Linked DNA regions of Homo sapiens: region 2 is linked to region 1. A link means that fine-mapping ties the variant in region 1 to the expression of a gene that starts in the linked region. Tissue or cell type: macrophages. Region 1 holds a variant in brackets; the other region holds the start of a gene. All regions are shown on one strand. Distances are between the middles of the regions.

Region 1 (4,000 bases):
AAGCAAATATAATTAACCCATATTTCACCATCACAACATTGCAAAGTTCCCTGGCTTCTGATCCCTCCCTGAGCCACTGACTATGCAGGCACAGACACTGTAGGGAAAGTCCTGGAATAGGACTTTCTGCAAAGGCCACAGCTGCCCAGACCACTCCCTATTAGAGGGAGCCAGCTTCTGACTCTCCCACTGTCACTCCTAGATACCCTGAGGCTCATAACACACAGCAATGCCACCCCTGCCACCTTCTCTTGACCTCTAAGTCACTCACATACATTAAGGACCTCAGTGCTTCAAGCTCACTCCAAGTACTACCATCACCCTGGGCAAGGTCAAGGTTCATATGGCAACACAACCACCTCACCCTTCCCTTTAATTCTGACTATGAGCTGCAGTCCAACCCCACTCCACTACAGGCACCACTGTATGGCCATACTTAGGAATGTCATTTGGCAGAATGTCCAAGAGCTCTCTCTGACCACAAATTTCCAATTCATCAGTTCTCCCTCATACATATTCGCATTTATAATAATTATTTAAAAAATAATAATACGCAACACTCTGGGAGTATTTACTATGTACTCAACACTATTGGGAGACTCATTTAATCCTCCCAGCACTCCTGTGATGTACGTATTATTCTCATTTTATATGACTTGAAATCTGAGGCACAAACAGGTTAAGTAATTTGCCCAAGGTCTCACAGCTATAAAGTTGCAGAGCTGAGATCTGAAAACAATGTGGTGGGGCACCGAAGTATGTGCTCTCTTTCATTATTTTTTACATTTTATTGAACATACACAGAAAGTACATATAGCGTAACTGTACTAATAGATTTATTTTTGCAAACTGAACGTACCTGTATAACCAGCACCCAGATCAAGAAGCAACATTACCGGCATACTAGAAGCCGCCCTGTGTCCCCTCCCAGTACCACTGTGCTGAATTCTAACAGCACAGATCTGTTTTGCCTGCTTTTGTGCTACTGTGGCTGGCTGCTTCTTCAGTCTTCACTTACCACCACCACCCATGCTGAATCGTGTTGAGAAGCTCCACCTATTAGGCACTGCTCTAAGCATATAATCATTTGGCCCCTTTAACTGACACTGCCTGGCCCTATATCATCTGTTCTCCTAGTCCCCCTCTAATGCTTTTCCCTTCTATCAAACCCAAACCCACATCCCACACTTTTGCTCTCTCATCAGTAGCTACTGGACATTCTGCGAAATGCAAAACTCCAATTCCAGATCAATCTAACTGTCTATCTTTCACCCATGTACAGAAGAATGGCCAAACACTGCTGAAGATCACACAGCTTGCAGAATGGTAATTAAATGCACAATGTCCCACCACAGCTGGACACCAAGTGCTGCCGAAGGTGCTTTCTCCATGTCCCCAACCACTCCTCCTCTCCTCTTCGTAGGGACTAGTCCAAATTCCAAATATTCCCTCTTCTCAAGTACATGTCAAAAGTCTCTAATGCCAGAAGGGACATCATATACATGCCCTAATCTCATCCTCCCACTCGCAATACAGTAGCCTAATTCCCTCCTATTTCAGTGAGCAATCCTAAAAATGTTTACCAGGGGTAAGTTTAAAAGGCAAACCAGGGAAAAAAAAAAAGTTATTCACCACACATGACAAAAAGATTAACATTCTTAACTTTTAAAAAATCTACACAAGAAGAAAAACTCTATTTCTCCAATAGGAAAACAGCCAAAGTAATAGACAATATAAAAAAAATTACAAATGGTTGATAAACATATGGACAAAGACTGATATCCGTTTCAAATCAACTTAATGCAAATAAAATTGGCCAAGATTAAAAATGGGTAATACCACATTCTTCCAGGTAGACTAAATGTTAATTCCCAAATCAAACTAACTGAGTGCCTGGACCATGTACTTTAGCCCCACCTGGAATCTGTGTATGGCATCCTGCCCTCAGCTTGCACTGAGAGACATTCACCACCACATTTATGATGGCAACATTGTTCAGAACCTTGTCCCTCTGAAAGGACCCATGAGAATACTTTCTTTTATTATTATTATTATAATAATAATACTTTAAGTTTTAGGGTACATGTGCACAATGTGCCGGTTAGTTACATATGTATACATGTGCCATGCTGGTGTGCTGCACCCATTAACTCGTCATTTAGCATTAGGTATGTCTCCTAATGCTATCCCTCCCCCCACCTCACAACAGTCCCCAGAGTGTGATGTTCCCCTTCCTGAGAGAATAATTTCTTTAGGTCTGAGCTCAGAAACTGTACTTCTCCTGAGTCATTTGCCATTTTTAAATCTCCAGAATTCTG[C/G]AACTGTTTTCGTATTTGGTGAGGCTGTGGAAGCTCAGAGCCGAACGTGTGACCCAGCCCCATGGCAATCATGCATGCCCCTGTGGCATGTGTTTCCACATACTGACCTCACTCCTGACTTAATTGGTCAGTTCTCGCCATGTTCCCTTGGCCCAATTTCCTTTTTTTTTTAAACTTATTATATGTATTTTTTAAGTTACTTAAACTCTTTTTGAAACAAAACGAGAGAGGGCAGTCCTAATGCTGAGGTTGTCCCCACTCTCCTGTCCTCCATATTCTGAGAGGAATGAATCAGATTGGACTTTCACAGTTTTCATTTGTCACCACAGGTGTATAAGGTGTCTGTGTCCTGGGCTAATGAATTCTGATTGTGCAAATTAGCTTCTTAAGCAATAGTCCCTAAATACTTGGTGATTTCTAATTGCCTTACTAAATACCATATAATTCTCTCAAAATGTTCTTTTAGGAACACCAGGGGGCATATTTTTCAAGACGGAGGTGCTATAAAATCAACAAATTTGACAAGCTATTCAAATTCTAAAATGGCCTGGAATATTTAACTCAAAATATTAAAAGTTCCTGTAATAACAGCTGGGCACAGTGGCACATACTTGTAATCCCAACACTTTGGGAGGCCAAGGCAGGAAGATTGCTTGAGTCCGGGAGTTCAAGACCAGCCTGGGCAATATAGTGAGAACCTTTCTCTACAAAAAAATTAAAACATTAGCCAGATGTGGTGGTGCATGGCAGCAGTCCCAGCTACTCAGGGGGCTGAGGTGAGAGGATCATTTGAGCCCAGGAGCTCAAGCTGTGATCATGCCACTATACTCCAGTCTGGGTGACACAGCAAGACCCTGTTTCAAAACAAAAAACAAAAAAAAGTCCTATAGTAATATAGAGATAATACCCAGCTATAAAACAAATGCATACTGCAATGTGTAAGATAAATGTATTCTATATACTTCCTAGATGAAAAGACAAACTTTAGAAAAGTCACTAAAACAAAACAGGAAAAAAAATCATATGGACTATGTTGAGTCCATATGATTCCATTATGGTGGAAGAGAAATAAAATGTCATAATGTATTCTTCAAAGAAACTATGTATCATTCAATCCAGAGAGAAAACATTGTCTAAAGGTAAAAAAAAAAAAAAAAGAATATTAAAAAATGTAATTATCCCCACTCTAATTCCAGAGAATGGGGAAGTGAAACTAAGATACATCCATTCAGACCCAACTTGGTTGTGTTCAAGTATTCAAAGAAACATCATAGAACTGACAGCAATGAACGGAAGCAGAACTTAGAGATTCAGATTGTATCCTTTCTCTCTCCCTATTCCTCTTCCATTTCATTGGTTGTATCAGCCAGGATGCTTGTGGTTGCAAGTCAAGAAAATTAATCTTAAAGTATTAGGCGATAGAGTGGATTTACTGCCTCATGCTAACGCAGAGTCCAGGGTCAGCTCTTGCGAGCTTCAGGAAAGGTTTGGTAGGACTTCACAATACGGGTTTGCAATTCTCTAAGCCTATTCTCACCCAGGAGTTGGCTTTGTCCTCACTGTGGGGGGCTGTGAGGGAGGTGGGAGGAACATCTTCCCCCAACCACTCCATAGTCTGATTGGGACAGTTTCTATGACATGCCTGCCCCTGAATTAGTAACTGGGACCAGATGAATTCCATG
Region 2 (4,528 bases), 24 kb after region 1:
AGTTCATGAATAACAAGTATGGGGCTATTATTTCTGTGGTTGTGGTGTTATAATTTATAATTTGACTCCTGCTCTGGAAATACTATTATTTTGAAGTCTACATAGGAGGCTTTATGAAATCAAATTCCAATGACTGAAAAAGTTTCATCAATCAGTTAACAATTTTTTAAGAAATCAGTAAACATTTATTTAGTACCTACTATGTGTATGCCACTGGGTTAGGCACTTTAAGGATGAAAGTATTTTCTGAGCCCCCAACACAAGACAATGGTCTGCCAATACAGAAGAATGGTTGAAGTAAGTACTTAAAAACTCAGGGACCTAACGGCACTGCGATAGCACAAGAGCAAGCTGCTGCTGCACTGGGGAGGCTTACAAGACACCTAGGTGAATTTTAGGACACCCAATCCACCACAAAAAAAGCCTGTAAGACACAAAGGCCCCTCACTATAAAAGGGCTACTTTGGTAATCTGAAATTATCACATTAGTCTGCAAAATGTTAGATTTGGACTGAAAACTTGAAAGCTGTTAAAGTTTCCATATGCACCTGTGTAACACTTTTTTAAAGCCAAGTAGGCTTAACACACAGCTTAACACTGATATTAAGAGCACCTTGAGTTAGTAAGCCTAAACCATCAGAGGTTTCTTTAAAGAATCTATAGGAGAAGGAATTCAATTTCTGATAATCAGAACAAAGTTGAATTTTCACTTAGGGTATGGGAATGGTGGGGAAATCAACTGTTATGCAACACTGAAAAAGACTTTCCCCTTTCGTACAGAAAAAGTATCATGACGACTGCTAGAAATGTAAGACAGAAAGTACATCAAACTATATCCCTCAAACTTCGGAGGTTCAGCAGTTCTCAGCAAGCAAGGAAAAATCAAACAAATTTTGCAAATTACTCTTTCAAAAACTGGTCGTGATGAGAGGGATGACAGCCAACAATCTGCAGCCATGCACGAATTTTGTTGTTGTTGTCTTTTACTGGTTTAACAAAACATAAACCAACGCATGAGTTCCAGCTTTAAATTCTGAAATGAGAGAACTGGAAAGCTGCTGCTGTGTGCCTTAATGATCACGTTTTTCTTTTTCCTTTTTAACTTTCCTTTAGAAAACCTCAACAAAGACTAAGCCCAGAAACTTTGACAAAACATAAGCCAAGGCAACATGCGCTGGAGAAGACACGCAATGTAAAAAAACAAAAAACCCCAGTCACAAAATGTCCCAGTAAGTCGGCTTAATAAAAGATTAACTTTGTTCTGCTGAATGCTTCAAAAATCGCGTTTCACAGTATTTTCTAATTACATATGCTTTAAATACAGTATGTATGCTAATAAACGTGGACCTCAAATACATGTGCAATGAAGCAAAGCTGATGTTCCAGATTACATTCTAGCAGTCCCGAAGAAAATGGTAACCTGCAACTGCATGTGCAAAGCTGACAGAGGGAAAAGAGTGGTGAGGCCAGTCGCCCTTCCCTTTCTACCACAGGAAAAGAACAAAGTTCACACTGATTTAACATTGCAGGGGCGCGCCAGAATATCCTGGGGGTTTCCCTCAAACACCCGCTCTTGGAGAGGAAATTGATGCAAGCGCCTCAGTCAACTTCACATCGGGCCCCGCCGCTCCGGGAGTCGGATGTGTCCAAAAAACCGACGCCGCGACACAGGCGGCGTCCTAATCGCAACCCTAGGAAATCAGGGTCGCGGGACCTGGGTCGGTCCTTCTCTGAACGCTGCCCCGGCAAGGCGGGAGACTGGCGTCAATCAGAACCATCCAAAGCGGGACAAGAGGGCACCGAGGCCGGGTGGGGGGGACCCCGCCCGGCCCCTGCGGGAAAGTTGCTTACTGGCCGGGCCCGAGTTTCGCGGCGGCCCCAGAGTGCCCGGCGCCCCTTACCTTCTTGCCGCTGCCGTCGCGAAGCTCCGACTCCAAGAGGCCGGCGCCGCGGGTCCGGGGCAAGGCGGCCGTCTTCTGGCCCTGCGGGAGGCGCGGCCCGCCGGACGACAGCGGCGGTGCCGCGGGGCTAGGCGCGTCCTCGGCCACCAGGCGCTCGGAAATGTGGATGCTCGGGGCACAGCCCATGCTGGCGGCGGCGCCGCGGACACGCTGGCGGGTAGCCGCGATCCGGTCAGCAAACGGCCCACCCGGCGCCTCCGGGCCGCCGCGGGCGCCGTGTCATCGCCGCCTGGGCGGGCGGCGGCGAGCGCGGATCTCGCGTCAGGAAACGCGGCCGCCCCTTTTATCGCGGTGCGGGCGCTGCGGCGGCGGCGGCTGCGGTGGGAAGGGGGCGCTTAGGCGGGTGGCGTGCCGAGGCCGCCCCTCCGAACATGCCCTTCCTGAGGCAGGAGCCGACGGCCGCCTCTCACATCGCCGGGCTCGCCTCGGCCGCGCTTCCGGGGAAATAGGGGGAGGAGATTTGCGCTCTCCTTACCCAGGAGCGGCTGAGTCCACGCCGCGCGAGCCACGCTGCCCTCGCCGAGCTGCGGCACGACCCCCGGGGGAGGCGAGCTCCCGGCCGCGCCCGGCCCCGCTCCCGCCGCCGCCGCCGCCGCCTCCCCGGCTCCAGACTCCGCCTAGATGTGGACACCCACGCCGCTCCGCCCGCTGGGCCGCCGCCTCGCGGAAAAGCCCCCCCAGGCCGAGTGCCGGTGGGGTACAAGGCTAGCCTTAGACGCTCCCGCTGGCCGGGGTTTAGGCGCGGGGTCCGAGGGAAACCCCTCGGAGCGGCCGGGCCACGTCCGCCAGGGTAGGGAGGGGAGCAGCTCGGCTCCAGCGGGGCCTGGGGCCGCACCGTCGAGAAGCGCAGAAACGGCTGCGCGCACCCAGGAGTTGCTGGCGGTACGGCTCCGGCTCCGGCTCCGTGATCCGGGCCGGGTTTTGCCGGCAGCGTGCCGCGCCGAGCCCCCAGCGGTGACCTCCAGCGGGTGCTGGCGTCAATGCAAAGCAGCTGGGGCGCCCGCCACCTCCTCCGGACGCCGCCCGCAACTGAGCATGCGCGGCGACGACAGGCGGGGCGCCCGACTGGGCTACCCAGAGAAGGAAAGAGACTTGCCCAGGGACACACAGCCACCTCCGTCCCGAGGCCACCAGAAGCCCGACCGCCAAATTCGAATTCCGGCTCCGTAACTTAGCGGCTACTTGACCTCGGTGGGGTCACCAAGTGTGAGCCCTGGAGCTGTTACCCAGAAAAGAGGCCGGTGGAAAGACCTCCTTTGGGGGTAGTGAAAGTCAAACTGGGGCGCCGCGCGCCGGGTCCCGGGTGGGTGGGGCCTGGGCGTCCGCGAGAAGCCGCAGCCCACGTGCGCTCCCTCGCAGGCCAAAACCTGGCGCGCCACGCCTCGGATTACACAGGCGCCGGGGCGGCCGCAAAGCTACAGCACCGGGCAGGCTGCAGGCGCCCGTCCTCCTCTCATTTTAACCAAAGTGCTAGTCGGGCGTCCGAGACCCCAAAGGCAGAGCCAGGGGAAGGGGCGTACGCATTGCAGGCCTGGGGCCCATGAGGACCCCGGACACGCACACAGCCACTAGCTTGCTGTGTGAACTGGGCCAGTCACTTAACTTCTTGGTGGCTGGGGCTCCTCCCCCACCAGCTGGAGGGCGGTGTCTCTGGGCGTCCATCACGTATCCTGTAGCGGGCTGCCTCGGACCCCCGCCAGTCTTCCCGCCCTCCCTGGGCTCCCGGTTTGCGGAGACCCTGGCGCGGTGCAGCCGGCTCCTTCCTGTCCTCTCCGACCGTCCACACCTTTCCTAGCGCGGCCCTGGAGCGACCCTGAGAGGCAGCCGCTCCCGCCTTGGCCCGGCTACTGCAAAGACCCGGAGGCGTGCTGCGGGCTGGATTCCCTGCTGTCGCGCTGGGACTGCAGCACAGGTTCAGGTGCCGGGTCCCCGGAGCCTCGATCTCTGGCCCGAGCAGGGTAACCCGAGAGCACGTTACTGGCGAAACTGCCCCGAACCACTGGCACGTGGCTCTATTACCAAGTTTAAGCCCATTAAGCAATATTAATATTTATGCTTCTCTGCCTTATAAAAGTACTACTGGCTTGGTGAAGATGTCTTAAAAAACAAAGGAAAAGATTTTTAAACATCACTCTTTATTCCGCCTAAATCGTATAATTTTTTTCTGCCTTTGCTCTGCAATTTTAAGAGGTCTTTTTTCCAGGTAGAATCTGGAGCTCTTGTAAATAAAGGATACTTCATGGAGAAAATGCTTGGAACCAACAGAGTTCATGGAAGTTTAAAGCGCGACCTCTCCTCCCCGCCCTGCAGAGAAGTACGGCCTTGACGACTCCCGGCGCTGACCTTGCCGCTTCTGGGGCTCCAAGCAGCTCTAGTCCTCTCGGCCCTCCCCTCCTAGGCAGGACCTCGGCGTCCCGCCTCCCTTGTTGGTCCTTGGGCCATGCACTAAATGAAGGAGTTGGGGACTAGGGCTGGGGGATCAGCTGGCCTGAAAAGCCCCGTGTGCACCGCCCCACACCTTGCTGACTGCCCGGACTGCCTTGTGCTGTCCTGAGCTGGTCACTTAC

Alleles and levels. Alleles are on the strand shown, and positions count from the first base shown. SD is a standard deviation of normalised expression in the study named.
In carriers of allele C in region 1, the expression in macrophages of the gene that starts at base 2,394 in region 2 tends to be higher than with G alone (moderate effect, 0.59 SD a copy in Nedelec 2016).

Evidence for each region.
Region 2: it holds the start of PDE8A, and the variant in region 1 is fine-mapped to the expression of PDE8A in macrophages (Nedelec 2016, PIP 0.95).

What each region holds. Positions count from the first base shown.
Region 1 is chr15:85,004,323-85,008,322 of GRCh38, reverse strand. The region is part of intron 1 of PDE8A (phosphodiesterase 8A); the gene reads right to left. Among named protein-coding and RNA genes, the nearest start is that of PDE8A, 24 kb to the right of the region's middle. The variant C/G (reference allele first, on the strand shown) is at 2,319.
Region 2 is chr15:84,979,722-84,984,249 of GRCh38, reverse strand. It overlaps PDE8A (phosphodiesterase 8A), which reads right to left and starts at 2,394. Exons shown (of 22, transcript NM_002605.3): 1 at 1,902-2,394. The coding sequence starts at 2,087. RefSeq lists enhancers at 2,213-2,745, 3,895-4,394, 4,395-4,528 and silencers at 2,473-2,962, 3,283-3,332, 3,893-3,942.